Linked DNA regions of Homo sapiens. The protein of the gene in region 2 interacts with the protein of the main gene of each other region in a pairwise test. Each region holds a gene or a part of one and is shown on either strand. Other genes may lie near its edges.

Region 1 (7,505 bases), on a different chromosome or scaffold from region 2:
ATTTCTGGACATTCTATCTGTGACACATTTTTTCCCTTTCTGTTAAGAGTGCAGATTACTGCATTATTCCTACAAAAGGAAGCAAAATAACCCTAGTTTGTATGATTTTTCTGATAATTTGAAACTTATTCGTTTAAAAAGCTATCTGGCAATTCCAGGTTACTGGACTCTTGAGAAGAATATCCTTTTATTTTGATACTATAAAATATCAAAGTATCAAAATACTTTAACTGTGCAACTTAATAAAAATAATGCTTCAAAGTTAGCTCTGCACTATCGCTGTCCTCAAATGTGTGGTATTTAAAGGAAGAAAATGTTTTTAATTCTGAGCTTTGTGAATAGAACTCTTCTAAAATCAGAAGTTTTTTTTTTTCTCCTGCAGTGTTGGAAACACAACAGTTTTATGCTTATTTCTGGGAATAAGAAAGTCAAACTTAACAATCTAGTTTCCATTGATCAGACAGTTTTTGTACTTAAATTTAAGTTCTAAGCATCAGAGTGATAAATACTTTTTAAAATTGTATTCACTGTTAATTATAGTGGCCTTATTTGAAGTAAAATCTTGACATTGGGTGTTTTATTAATGATGATCCTCTGCTACTGAAAAGCCTATGTCAGTTTGGAGAAGATTTTGCACATCTAAATCTATGCTGTTTTTACTAATCAAAAGAGAAGAGCAATTTACAGGTGTTAGATTTTTAGTTGGTTGAATGAGACCCTCACTTTTGATGGTTTCAGAGTTGAAGTGACGTTTTATTACTTTTGTTAGTTTGGGTCACACCCATCACTTCCTTGGAAGGTATCTTTGAGGTTTGGTTTCCTTTTTTTTTAAATGGTAATATTGGGGTGGGGGTGCTTCCTGTTTGTATTTTCAAAATTAGGTCCACATGTTAACCTTCTTGTAGTGTCACATTTTTATTTTAAACTTATACAGACAAACATCAGATGCCATGTGGTTTGTCTCTGACCCTTTGCGCTACTTCATGACAGCTTTACTGAGTGAAGCCTGAATACCCAATCGGGAAGGCAAGATGTTCTTGTCTTTTCCCAACTCTCTTCAAAGTTTAACAGCCTTGGAAGGAGTCTTAGAACAGCAACAAAAGCACAATTTACAGAAAAATGGAGGTGCTGCTATCTGTTTCCTCGCAGGTACTTGGAAAATGTATAGCACTAAGATAGAGTTGAAACATGTTATGTAGAGCCTTGAATGTCGGTGCTTCAAAGAGGAGTTGCTCTGGGTTTACATGATACAGAACCCCATGGTTTATATTAAGTAGTAATGATAGCCGTTTTTCTGGACTCGCTTAAAAGCCATACACAGTGTCATGGAAAAGAGTTAAGAACAAGGTGAAATTCAGGGTATGGTATTAGAGCTCAGGAGGAATCACCTTCAGCCTTAAAACTCTTCCTTTACTCTCCTGGATCACTTAAGTGATAGGTCACTTTTAATATAAATGTTGCAGGATGAGTTAAGTGGAGCCTTGAGAAATATGTGTAGATTGTTTCAGTGATTAAAGCAAGTGTTCTTTTCCTGGCCTTTAACTCGCTTTATGCTAAGAAGTGTAATAACTAAATAGACTCCTAATTGAATTGACATTCAGATGTGTTTGCAGTTTAGGGGGAGTTTACCTCTTCTAAATTTTCATTTGGATCCCATTACTAAAAGCAGTATTGCATTAGCATGGTGCACAATTATGTACAATTCAATTTGCAAATGAAGTTAATACTTGGAGTATCTTGACTTCCTATTCCCCTGCTGCCCCAATATTCAAGAAAGGAGAAGTTATAATTTGTCACATACAAGATGGTTTCTTCTTTAGGTTTATTCTTAATAACTATGTCCATTTTCACATGGATGACACCACTGAGATGATGAATACCTGTATTGATTGATTGATGAAGAACATTTATCTTTTTCTACCTACTTTTGGAAGCTAGCTTGCAAAATCTACTGCAACATTCACTCTTCATGTATCCTTCTATTACCTTTGGTACCCTGAATAACCTTTTAAAAATTTTTGTACTTTTCTAATATGAAGAGAAGTAGCTTCATATTCTATGCTAGTTTTCTGAGGTGCTTGTGCTGACTCATTTTTTAAATTATACTAAGATATAGAGCATGGTTTGAGAGCAGTAATGAGATTCTCAGAAAATATGAAAACTTTCCTTTCTGACTAGTTAGAGAAAGGTTGGGGAAGACAAGGGGAAATACATCAATGAGCCAATCAATTATTGTTATTTGTTGGGATTAATTTGGTGACTAATATTTTTAATGCCCATCAGGCTACTAAATGTGAATTTGGCTTTACCCTGTAATGATAACAGGACAAACCCAACGGGTTTCTAACATTGCTTGTTTTCCCCTGGTAGGGGATTTCTTTGCATATGGGAAATCAGGCCGAAGTTGCCAGTAACAGCCACATCCATGATTTGTATTAAAAATAACTATTCATCATTCTGGGCTAGAGCTCTGCTTACCATGGCTCACCTGGGAAGATATTCTGATTATGTATCTAATCATTATGATGCCACCTTTCGAGAGGTGAGCAGACAATTAACAAGTCCTTCAAATTATGTTCAAAACCCAGAGTTTGAGAAAATGTTCCAACGCCTTCAAGTGTGAAGATAATAAAAACATTACCTAATGCTTACCGTTCACTGACAGTGTGCTGGGCAGACATTGTTTTCAGCTCTGGCCTTGTGTTAACTCGTGATTCTCAGAGGAGTGGGTATTATTCCCAGATGGAAGATGAAGAAATGGCCACAGAGAAGTTAAGTAATTTGTCCAAGGTCACATTACTGTTCTTGGCGGGGCTGATTCCAGAGACTGCATCCCTAACTAGTGTACAGCAAAAGCGAGCTGGCCACTGCCACTTTGTTATAAGACATTTTGTTTCTTTGAGGCTTGTATTTCTTTGTGTTCCCAAATGGAGTCTCGTTGGTTTTTGAATAGAAAATATTTTTATATGTTTAGGATTTTTTTAAATGTTGATGAAGATGGTGATAAATATTTTTCCAATTAAAGTATATACTTCTGGTGGAAATTATATTAAAGAAGAGAAAGTCTTAATTTTTATTATAAGTTGTCTTTCATTCTTCTTCCCCTAGCATTACCGTGTACATCATAGAAGAAGAGCTATAAGCTGTCTCCTTGGCCTCTGTTTACAAACAAAGGGATCATTTGTGCCAATGTAGTGGGTTTGTGTTGACATGCACGTCTGTACTGAGAACTCAACAATCCCACTCATTTTATTTACAACTTTATTTTGCGGGGATTTCTGTCCTATTCTTGTTGCATTAAAGCTTTTTAGAGCATTAGTCATGATTTCTGAGACAGATTTAAGAATTTTACTTATTTGGGCTAATTTATTATTATTATTTCTTGAGACAGAGCCTCGCTCTGTCACCCAGGCTGGAATGCAGTGGCGCGATCTTGGCTCACTGCAACCTCCGTCTCCTGGGTTCAAGAGATTCTCCTGCCCAGCCTCCGGAGTAGCTAGGACTACAGGCATGTGCCACCATGCCCAGCTAATTTTTGTATTTTTAGTAGAGACGGGGTTTTGACATGTTGGCCAGGCTGGTCTCGAACTCCTGACCTCAGGTGATCCTCCTGCCTTGGCCTTCCGAAGTGCTGGGATTACAGGCATAAGCCACCATGCCCAGCCTATTTGGGCGAATTTTTAAGGCAACTGAACTATTGTATGTCTAGAGCTCTGCAAAGGCCATTAGAAAATAGTCTCAGATTTTTTTTTTTTTTTCATTTATGATGCTTACTTTCTCTCAGCACTTTTCCTTGGGAGTGGATTGTGAAGTTAAGTCTTGGAAACAGAATTCACAACCCTAAAGCGTAGTGCTTTAACTTTGGGAGATCAAGTCACAGACAAGAAGAACTTCAATTCCCTGTGCAGAGTATAAACTTGTTCAAATAAACAGAGGATGTTAGCTTCCAGGATTGTCAACTGTCACCTTTGACCAGGGTTGAATTTTCTTTGAATGTTGACAGAAGTTACAATGTCAGTGGAAAAAGCTTAATGTGAGGTATCTATAACTCAGAATTTCCTTATGTTTGTGTCAGTGAGATCCTACAATTAAAGCTGCTTCTTTTTTTCTATGTCTGATGAGTTTTAAAAGCCTTCACTGGGGTTTTCCAGCCTTTAGGTGAGAGTAAGTTAAAAAGTTTGTGAGAAACTATTTTTTGTTGTCTAAAATTCAGAGCCTAGGTCGGGCCCAGTGGCTCACGCCTGTAATCCTAACAATTTGGGAGGCCGAGGCAAGCGGATCACGTGAGGTCAGGAGTTGGAGACCAGCCTGGCCAACATGGTGAAACCCTGTCTCTACTAAAAATACAAAAATTAGCCAGGTGTGGTGGTGCACGCCTGTAATCCCAGCTACTCAGGAGGCTGAGGCAGAAGAATCACTTGAACCCAGGAGGCAGAGGTTACAGTGAGCCGAGATCGCACTACTGTGCTCCAGCCTGGGAGACGGAGCGAGACTCCATCTCAAAAAAATAAATAAATTAAATAAATTCAGAGCCTATAGCTGGTGGCAAGTCACTGTTTTTGAAGGAGTGGGATTTTAAAAAATCTAACCTGGGCTAAATGTTAAGTTACATTCATACATGTCATTGTAGCCTATATAAAAAGAAACTTGAACACTTGATCTCTTAAAGTACTAAAAATTGGAATTCATCAGCTTTGTAATATAGCATTCATTCTACAGTATATTTAAATAGGTAAAATGTTCTGTTAGAAATAATGCTAATTCTGTTTTTTTGTTTAATGTTTCTAAAAATCTTTTGGTCATCTTTTAGGTTTAGGAAAAGTAGCAAATTAGAGATCTACAGAAATCTACAGCTCTTTAAAAATGAAACAGTTCACCCTGTGAATTTGTTTGCAGGATTGGTGATCTGTTTCTGATGCCAGGAAGGTGGGACTCCTATCTCATTTCTGATAGAAAGTGAGGGAAAGCTATGTATAGTGAGAACTGGATACTAGATTCTTATTCCGAAGGCATGGAAGGTTTAATATGTAAGGATACAATGTAAATAGTCCCTCTTTTTGTATTTTTCTTTGGTTATTGTTACGTAACTATAGTCGTTTGTCACTTAATGATACATGGTGACAAAGTTCTAAGAAATGCATTAGGCGATTTTGTCATTGTGGTACCATCATAGAGGGTACTTACACAAACGTAGATGGTGAGCCCTACTGCACACCTAGGCTGTATGATAAAGCCTATTGCTCCTAGACTACAAACCTGTGGAACATGTATACTGTATTGAGTACTGTAGACAATTGTAACACAAGGGTAAGTATTTGTGTATCTAAACATATCTAAATATAGAAAAGTTACAGTAAAAACATGGCATAAAGGATAAAAAATGGTACATCTATATAGGGTACTTAACAGGAATGGAGCTTGCAGGACTGGAAGTTGCTCTGGGCAACTCAGTGGGTGAATGGTGAGTGAATGTGAAGGCCTAGGACATTACTGTACATTACTGTAGATTTTAAAAATACTGTCTGGTTAGGCTACATTAAATGTATTTTGAAAATTGTTTCTTTCTTCAATAATAACCTTAGCCTACTGTAATACTTTTACTTTGTAAACTTTTTACTTTTTTTTTTTTTTTTTGAGATGGAGTCTTGCTCTTGTGGCCCAGGCTGGAGTGCAGTGGCGTGATCTCGGATCACTGCAACCTCTACCTCCCGGTTCAAGCAATTCTCCTTCCTCAGCCTCCCGAATAGCTGGGATTACAGGCGTGTGCCACCACGCCTGGCTAATTTTTGTATTTTTAGTAGAGACGGGGTTTCACCATGTTGGCCAGGCTGGTCTCAAACTTCTGACCTCAGGTGATCCACCCACTTTGACCTCCCAAAGTGCTCGGATTATAGGTGTGAGCCGCCGTGCCCGGCCAACTGTTTACTTTTTTACACTTTTAAACTCTTTTGTAGTAACACTTAGCTTAACACATAAACATGTACAGCTGTGCAACAATATTTTCTTTATGTTTTTATTCTTTTACTTTTTCTCTTTTTAAATAATTTTTAATTTTTCAAAACTTTAAAAACTTTTTAATTTTTCAAAACTTTAAAAACTTTTTCTTAAAAGTGAAGGCATAAACACACACATTAGTCTAGGCCTACACAGGGTCAGGGTCATCAGTATCACTGTCTTGCACCTCCACATCTTGTTCCACTGAAAGGTCTTCAGGGGCAGTAACACATATGGAGCTGTCATCTCTTGTGATAACAATGCCTCCTGAAGGACCTGCCTGAGGCTGTTTTACAGTTAACTTTTTTTTTTAAGTAGAAGGAGTACACTCTAAAATAACGATAAAAAGTATGGTAAATACATAAACCAGTAACATAGGCATTTATTATCATTATCAAGTATGTACTGCACGCAATTGTATGTGCTAGACTTTCACATGACTGGCAGTGCAGTGGGTTTGTTTACACCAGCATTGCCACAAACATGTGAGTCATGCATTGCATTACAACATTATGATGGCTACAGCGTCACTAGAGGATAGGAATTTTTCAGCTACGTTTTATTATCTTATGGGACCACAGTGATATATGTGGTCTGTCATTGACTGAAACGTCATTATGTGGTGCCTGACTACATATATGGAAACTCTGAGTGTAGTCATGTTTTACAAATGAGTTTATCTTGCAGTGAGTTTAAATATCAAGTAAAAATACTAATTTCATTGTAATGTATGAAGAGATTGGCCTTTCTCCTCATGTTGAAGGTATCAAAACAAAATAGAAAATATTTGGCTTCCTGAGTGGCATGGCTACAATTCACATGCTGAGTTGGTGATGAGGCAAGATCCCTTGACTTTGCAATACCAGAAAAATGCACATAGTTAAAAAAAAATAGAGACAGGGGTCTTGCTATGTCTCCAGGTGATCCCTCCCACCTCCACCTCCACACCTCCCACCTCAACCTTCCACAGTATTGGGATTACAGGAATGAGTCACTGCACCGGGCCAAAAAGCATATAATTTTAAGGGAATGATTTTTTTTTTTTTTTTTTTATTTTTTGAGACAGTGTCTTGCTCTGTTGCCCAGGATGAGTGAAGTGTGCCAGGAGTGGGTCCTTAAGTAAGAAAACGTATTACTTTAGACACACATTTAAAATTTTGTCCAAAAATGTGATATTCTCAAAATTTATGGTTTTGAATTTTATTTATTATTTTAATTTATTATTATTATTTTTTAAAGAGTGGGGTCTCACTATGTTGCCCGGGCTGGTCTCAAAGTCCTGAGCTCAAGTGATCCTCCCACCTCAGCCTCCAGAGTAGATGGGACTGCAGGTGTGAGCCCCTGAGCCTGGCTAGTTTTGAATTTTTATTACCCAAATGTGAAGAGGTCTAGTTTGCACAGAACTTAACATTACATTCCAGTTTTATTGGTAAATTTGAACAGGATATAAGTGGCTTTAATAACTAATAAAAGAAGATACATCTTATAGATACACATATGTCTTTTTATAT
Region 2 (7,505 bases):
GCCCCGACTTCCCCCCTCCAACCTCTCCTTCTGGGTCTCTCAGTAGCTGGTGCTGGCAGCTCCCCTTCCTCCTGCCCTCCCTCCGGCCTTGCACACCTGCGTCTTCATTCTGCCCTGCCTACTCAAAGATACTCACTGGTGTTTTCTGAGGCAAATTCTCTTAAGTCCAGGTCTCTTAGGGGGAAGTTCACAAATGTTGTGAGCTTGCTGGTTCGGATCCTGGATTCTGAGAACCGCTTCAGATCTGGCATTGACGTGAGTCAAGGATAGTCAAACCAATGCAGAAGGGCAGACAACAAAAGGAAAGCCTACAAGGTCCGTTTCTTCCGACTGTTCCCCTCACCTATGGGCCCCTTGTCATCAGTCACCCTTGAAAGTCATGTCCCAGCCCTGATGGATCTTAAGGATACGGAGCACCAAGATCTTTGGGAACCTCTGGATGGAGAACTTCTTTATACACCGTTTTCTGCCTCGGCAGCGACAGCATGTCTGAGAGACAAGACAAACAGAAAGAACTTGTGGGGAAGTCAGTGGGCCCCAATCCAGTCACTCCTCAACTGGATCTGCTGGTATCAGCCTCTTCCCAGTAGGTCCCACGGAAATTTGTTCTTGCTATTACCGAAGGGTGACTTACTGGCTTTTCATCTCCATCAAGCACATCCTCTTTGGTGAAGAGCCTCATGCAGTCCATTAATGTCACCTCAGGATAACCTCGCTGGGAAGGGGAAAAAAGCAAAGGTCAGAGGTCAACATGAAAGGACAGGAGAGGGAGTTCAACAAGGCGGGCAACTGGGGTGCATACCTTAGCAATGGGCAGTGAGAGGTCCCAGAAGGGGTCGAAGACCGTAGAACAGTAACCACAATCTGTACACGTCAGCGAGCTCTTTAGCTGCCCAACAAAGAGATCTGGGGAAGAGAAGGCCATGAGATGCTGAAATACAGGAAGTAGAGCATGGTCTTCTGCACAGCAGCTTTTATTTTTTTTTTTGAGATGGAGTTTTGCTCTGTCCCCCAGGCTGAAGTGCAGTGGTGCAATCTCAGCTCACAACAACCTCTGCCTCCTGGGTTCAGTGATTCTCCTGCCTCAGCCTCCCAAGTAGCTGGGATTACAGGTGCCCACCACCATGCCTGGCTAATTTTTGCATTTTTAGTAGAGATGGGGTTTTGCCATGTTGGCCAGGCTGGTCTTGAACTCCTGACCTCAGGTGATCTACCCGCCTTGGCCTCCCAAAGTGTTGGGTTTACAGGCATGAGCCACCATGCCCGGCCTGCACAGCATCTTCTTTCTTGCTGTTCCTGCTTTGCTTTGTTGAACACTAGGCAGAAACAGGCTTCCCCGGGAGAGTGATTCTTAGGGCTTTTCATGCTCCACTCAGGCAAGAGCAGGCAACAGTGAAAACAGGCATCTTCCCTTTCATGCGCTTACCCCCGATCCTACTGTCTTCCCGTTCTAGATATTTTCTCCACATCTGTCGGCCTTTCTCGTCATCACTGGGAACCAGAGAGAGACAACAATTGGGTCAAAGCTCAAAACTTAAGTTTAAGGGTCTGTCAATTTTGATCCTTCATCTTCAAAAGTAAATCAGATTATTCCCAAATCATTAACCCCAAAGTGGTGGGTAAAAATCTCGAGTTCACAAAAGTTTTGCTTTCCCACAGCATTCTCCTCTTACTTACGGAAGATGATCGAGGTTCTCAGGGTTGGACTTAGGTCTCAGTGTCACTCGGTTCACCTCGTTATGGAGCCCATCCAGAAGAAAGCGAAGGAACTCCTGAGCATCCTGCTGACTGAACCCAAAGGAAGGAGGGTGAGCAACACCTCTTGTCCTAAGAACCTGCTCCTACTGCCACCCACCTGAGAGGACATGTCTGCAAGGCCCTTACTTATAGCCAACAAAGCGCGGTGCGTATCTCTGGATCTGGGTCTTGAACTCAGATGGGCTCACCACATCATTGGGGGATGAAGTCCATATGGTCTGAATTAGTTTTGCAAACTCTATTGGAAGGAGAGAGTGTACAGGACAGCTGAGATATTTTCTATAAGAAACTCTGAAACTAGAATCCCAACAAAAAGCAAGCAGAGAAAGACAGACAGGATAGGAGTGTCTAAGACACAACACCTAGAACAGCCCCAGTGGAGTGGAGGAGCATCCGGGGGTAGGCAGGGGCACATGACAGAGGGCCTCTCACCTTCCACGAGGGCTGTGTGTGCATTGCTGCCGTGGTGCAGGTCCCGCATGTAGAGCCTCTGGAGGCAGTAATCTCTCAACTCCCGAGTGTTGCTCAGGCACTGCAGAATTGAGTTCATGAAGCACTGCAAGAGATGACCAGGCAATCAGTGGGGAGACGAGAGTCCCACCTTCACCTGTGTTACTTACTACCAGAGGCTCTCTGGTTCATCTACCTAGAATCCTTTCATAGGAGGCTATCCTTTCATAGCCTCAAGTTCCTCTTTTCATAAGTGAAAGGGGTGAAGTGAGGCAAACCCCCACTCCAGGCATAGGTGACCTAATTGGTTATTTACTATAGAGGTGCACAAAAGGGCGTGATGTGATGGACAGAAGTGTGTGGGAAGTGATGGGCATCCTTTAGGGGAATGATCCAGGAGAGGAGCAGGCTGATGGGTAAAAGGGCAACTTCCTTTTAGCAGTGCTTCCTGCTGGGGGTGGGTAAAGCACAGCCCAGCAATTCTGTGAAACACCAGCCAGGAAGGGCAAGTGCCAACTGGCTGAACGGGTAGGGAGTCAGCCACAACCAGAAGGGGACTCTGGTTATATGGCTCCAGTCAGCATAGTAGGGGGTGGGCCTGGGGAAGAAGCAGGCCAGGAAAAACTCACCGTGTTCCCAAGGTTTCGAAGACCAGCCAGACCCTGGGCACTCTTAGAATTCTGTAAGCAAAGAACATATGGCAATAAGGTGGAAGCAAAGATGCTAGGCCTGTGCTGGGCTCTCTCGTGCAATTTCTAACCAGCTGGAGCCACAGGCAGCAGGCCACACATAATATTCTTTCTTCAACTTTACCCATCTATGTACTTTGTAGGAAAGAGGATTGAGGAATGCCTGTGATTTTCTTTTCTTTTCTTTTTTTTTTTTTTGAGACGGAATCTCACGCTGTCACCCAGGCTGGAGTGCAGTGGTACGATCTTAGCTCACTGCAACCTCCACCTCGTGGGTTCAAGCGATTTTCCTGCCTCAGCCTCCTGAGTAGCTGGGACTACAGGTGTGTGCCACGATGCCCGGCTAATTTTTTGTATTTTTAGTAGAGACAGGGTTTCGTCATGTTGGCCAGGCTGGTCTTGAACTCCTGACCTCAGGTGATCCACCTGCCTCAGCTTCCCAAAGTGCTGGGATTACAGGCGTGAGCCACCGCGTCCTGCCTAAATGCCTGTTATTTTCAACAACCAACAAAAATATTCTTCAGGGCTTTATTGAGTGTGTATTGACTATGTATCTCCCTGCCCCCCATCTTTATGTTATTCTCTATTCTCTGCTACAGTGGAGACTAGGAATTCATATATTTGGTACATATTGACTCCTTACTATAAGAAATTTTGAGTCCCAAATCCAGGTGCTATCTCAAATGACCTATATTTGTACTCCTAGAAGTCCAATATATAAAGTAACTCTCATAAGAGACACTTTGAGGAGGTTTTGAAAAGTTAAACAACAAAACACCTTGAGTTTCGATCTTCAGTTGGGAAAAACTCAAGTAAGCCTGCCATTCTGAATTGCCAGAGACAGGTGGAATTCCTTCCAGCTGAGCTCAGCTCCTAAGGGCTGATTAAAGACTCGGAGAATCCTCCCTGCCTGGCTCAGGTTTCAACATCCTGACTGGCCACTGTCTGGGAATCCTGGAGATGGCAGATTGGGCCCGCAGAGGCAAGGGCCTGGCTGAAATTGCCACTCTTGCTGTTGGCCCTATAGCGGAGGCGGGTGAGGGGGTTGGAGAGAGAACAGGTGCTGGATCGAGGACTCTGAGCTTATTTGTCAAGGTCTCTTGGCTAATCCTGGGCATATCTCCAAGGAGTCAGAAAACCTTCAGGCTCAAAGGGTTAAATAAACAGTTTGCAGATGAGTCTGCCACCCCCTCTCTCAGGGAGGGGACTGGGAGCAGGCAACTCTGGAGCAACACTGGGGCATGCGTGGGGCCAGCTCAGCCCTGATCAGAACAGGAGCCTGAAATAACTCAGCTAAAATTACTCATGCCGTGTGCTGACAGCCTATGAGGCTGTCAGCAGCTCAAAGCCCATGAGGTTGTCAGCTGGGGGGGAGGGGTGTGGGTGGGGGAGGAGCAGGCTGAAGGAGGGCTTTTCTCAAGAACTGCCTTACCGATCCCACAAGTAAGAGGATCCCTTCTTGGCCAGCTGTCAGGGCTAGCACTAACAGGTAGGGAAGAAAAATATACCCAGAAAAGAGACCCAGTTTAAACCTGCAGCTAGAGAGAAAGGCCAATTGGCAGCAGGTGGGATATAAGCATCCTTAGAGAACTTGGCTAGGGCTGGCAGTATATGGCCCCACACAACATCTGAATCTGACTTACTGACAGTCAGCAAGAGGGCCGCAACAGAGATAATTCCCTGGGACAAAGACCTTCTCAGCATTTTCCAGAATTGGTGAAACGCTGCAAAAGTCTCCATGTTGCGCACTCGGAACTAAATGTTAAAGCTTGCCCACAACAGAATACCCACCCTTACGTCTATTTTTGGCAGTGCTTTATTAGTTCTTAGCCCCTGTGCCTCAGATGACATCTGTCTAAACAGGCTGTAGGGGAAAGCATTCTACCACTGGTGACCGTGTCAATGTTCACCAAAGCAGGCCCTCAGCTGAGACAACAGTCACTCAGTGCTAATGGGGGTAGGGAAATGGGAAAACGGAGTCATCTGTCTACAGAAGCACTCCTGTGGTGTTTTAAGATGTTGACACTTAATTCTGACCCAGCAGTGAGGGGCAAGAAGGACACTTCGTCACCCACGATTACTATTCTTGAGGATCTAACCCCTCTATTGGCCTGGGGGGTGGGGAGATGGGAGAAGCTCCTTTAAGGCATCCTTAGGACCCTTGGTTGTTATGTTTTAGGGTGGGGGTTGATGCCTTTGTCTAAAATTTCCTCAGCTCAAAACCACATGCCAGTTTCTAGGTGCTCTGTGTAGAAGGCGGGTGGATAACAGGAGTGGGGGCGACAGAGGAGGGGGAGCAGGGCTGCTCCATGCCCAGCCAGATATTCTTCTGCCAAGAATAGGAAATCAGGAGCTCCAGGGAAAGTCAGCACTTTTCATTACAGAGGGGAACAAAATGTCCCCAGAGTGACCTTTCTTACAGGACAAACAATCCTACCTCAGGGTCGACAGGGAGAAAGGGGCCAGAACTGCAGAAGGTGGGAGACCCTGCACAGCCAACCTCTTTCGGTGAAAGCCAGAGAAGGAAATGACCCCAAGTGTTATGCTGGGACACATGTGCAAAGAGTTGAGAAAGTTTGGACCCAGTCTTCCTTCCATTCAGCCATCAGCAAACCTAGTTTTGACTCAGTATCAAGCACTGTTGCAGGGAGCAGATGGCACCTTCACCATCAGCAAATAGACAGCTTTCACCTTCTAGAGGAGAGGAGCGGGGGCTCAGGAGAGCCCTGCCTGGGTTAATGCAGAGGTAGCATCTGGGCACCCTTCGGTAGGAGAGGCCGAGGTTTGTGTCTTCACACTTGAGACCCCAATCAAGGGCTTTCCCGCCTACCTCACCTGTGTGGTGAGGGTCGCCCCAAGTCCTGGCTGCAGCTAGGAAGCCTGGTGTGGCCCTGGCACGGGGCAGGGCACGCACTGCCAGCACGGGAGCTGGTGCCTGTTACATAAGACCTGTCAAAGCTCGGGCCCCTTCTCCCTTCCCCAGGCGGGCAGCGCCCAGCCTCGGCCCCGGCATTCCCCTGGGGGCTGCTTCCGCGGAGGGACCCGCTGCCCGCTGCATAAATGGAGAGGACGGAAAGAAGGGGAAGTTGCCCTCTGTCACCTGTCTGCACCTCGTCTGCCCTTCACAGGGTCAAAGGACCCCCGTCACCAACCCTTGGGAAAGAGCCCTTGGTGGACAGTGAAGGGGAGGCGGCCCCTTTCTGCCCAGCCTTCCTCGCCGGGGTTTGGCCTCGGAGGAGTACCCCGGCACGGTCCAGCGTGCTGCCCTCGCACACCGATCGAGACCCAGTCAAGGTTATGCTTTCCTGCACCTGTCCTGATAGGTGCCAGGAATTGAGAGGCCAAGAGCCACCACCTGGTGCCGGGGCCACCGAGAGGGAGGGGGCAAGGGGGACTTCCTCGGACCTCCACCCGGGGAGGGGACCACGAGTAAGCGTGCGATCACCTGAGGAGGGGGCATTCCTTGCCAGGAGACCCTGGGAAAGGAGGGGTGGGGGCTGGGAAGAATCCGTCCCCTCACCTAGGGGCGCGTGGCGGGCAGAGGCCAGGGAGAAGGCGGGACCCCAGGCCCTCGGCGCGGGGGTCCCGGAAAAGGGCCCGCGTACCTTGGCTTTGTTGAGCAGGAGCCCCACGAAGGTGGAGAGCAGCAGGGACGGGGAGAGAGGGGAGCGCGGCCGCAGCTCCTTGGCGAGGGCGGGAAAGGGGGCGGCGGGGGGGTCCTCGGGCAGGGTCACGGTGTACGAGGTGCGCATGCTGGGGGGCGGGCGGCGGGCTTTGGCCCTCGCTTAACGTTGGCAGCGGGGGCGCGGGGGGAGTCCCCGCGCGGTGCCACAGTCCGGACGCCGAGGCCGGCGAGACCGCTACAGGACAGCGTCCGCGGCGCCCGAACGCGCGCTCCTCCGCCTCAACCTCCCCGGCGTGCGCCGCCAACAGCCCGGGTCCCGGCTCTCGCGCTCCGGCCGACTGGCGGCCCCGCCGGCGCCTCGGGCCCCGCGACGTCAGCGCTGGGGCGGGGCCAGGCCCTAAGCCCCGCCCCACCTCGCCTCTACCCCGCCCCCGGCGCCGGCACGCGGACCCGAACGAGGCGACAAGGTCGGTCCTCCCCCGCCGGGCCTTCCCCGCGCTCCCCGGCGCCCCCAGCCCGCTGACCCCCGGCCAGGCAGGCCCGCGGGGGAGGCAGGACCGGAGCCCTGAGGCCCTGGCCGGCCTCGGGGTTGAGGCTCAGCTCGGGATAAGTGATCTTTGGGGCCCGCAGAGGACGTCTCCCCAAGACCCAGTGGCAACCGGGTGAGCTTCCCCCAAGGCACCATTACACTTCCTAACTCTTGAGGGGGCTGCAAACCATTTTGAGAACGTGATGAAAGCTCTTCTCTCTTCAGGGCGAAATACGTATATGCACAAACTTTTGTCTAGAGTTCCGGGGGTACTCAGGCCTTCGTGAAGACCCAAACTCATGCAGTCTGTGGAGGTCAATGTGCCCAGGTTAAGAAGATGGACCTTCACGGCCTAGGGGCTGAGCTGCCCTCCTCAAAACAGTCCTGTTTGGCTTCTTTCAAGAGAGGCAGTGCTCATGTTTTATAAGGTCCAATAGGTCACCTTCTCATTTGG

The links. The genes of interacting proteins can lie anywhere in the genome.
Region 1: the proteins of USP2 (region 2) and STAT5B interact in binary tests that used the Homo sapiens proteins (3 or more experiments, as listed by UniProt).

What each region holds. Positions count from the first base shown.
Region 1 is NC_000017.11:42,266,088-42,273,592, reverse strand, and holds part of STAT5B (signal transducer and activator of transcription 5B), read left to right. Parts: exon of another isoform or gene 1-5,307; intron 5,308-7,505. UniProt on the Homo sapiens protein: Carries out a dual function: signal transduction and activation of transcription. Mediates cellular responses to the cytokine KITLG/SCF and other growth factors. Binds to the GAS element and activates PRL-induced transcription.
Region 2 is NC_000011.10:119,357,347-119,364,851, forward strand, and holds part of USP2 (ubiquitin carboxyl-terminal hydrolase 2), read right to left. Parts: intron 6,863-7,505; exon of another isoform or gene 6,650-6,862; coding exon of another isoform or gene 6,503-6,649; intron 6,373-6,502; exon of another isoform or gene 6,358-6,372; coding exon of another isoform or gene 6,343-6,357; intron 2,889-6,342; coding exon 2,838-2,888; intron 2,315-2,837; coding exon 2,191-2,314; intron 1,997-2,190; coding exon 1,885-1,996; intron 1,789-1,884; coding exon 1,678-1,788; intron 1,492-1,677; coding exon 1,427-1,491; intron 907-1,426; coding exon 803-906; intron 716-802; coding exon 635-715; intron 490-634; coding exon 411-489; intron 245-410; coding exon 137-244; intron 1-136. UniProt on the Homo sapiens protein: Hydrolase that deubiquitinates polyubiquitinated target proteins such as MDM2, MDM4 and CCND1. Isoform 1 and isoform 4 possess both ubiquitin-specific peptidase and isopeptidase activities.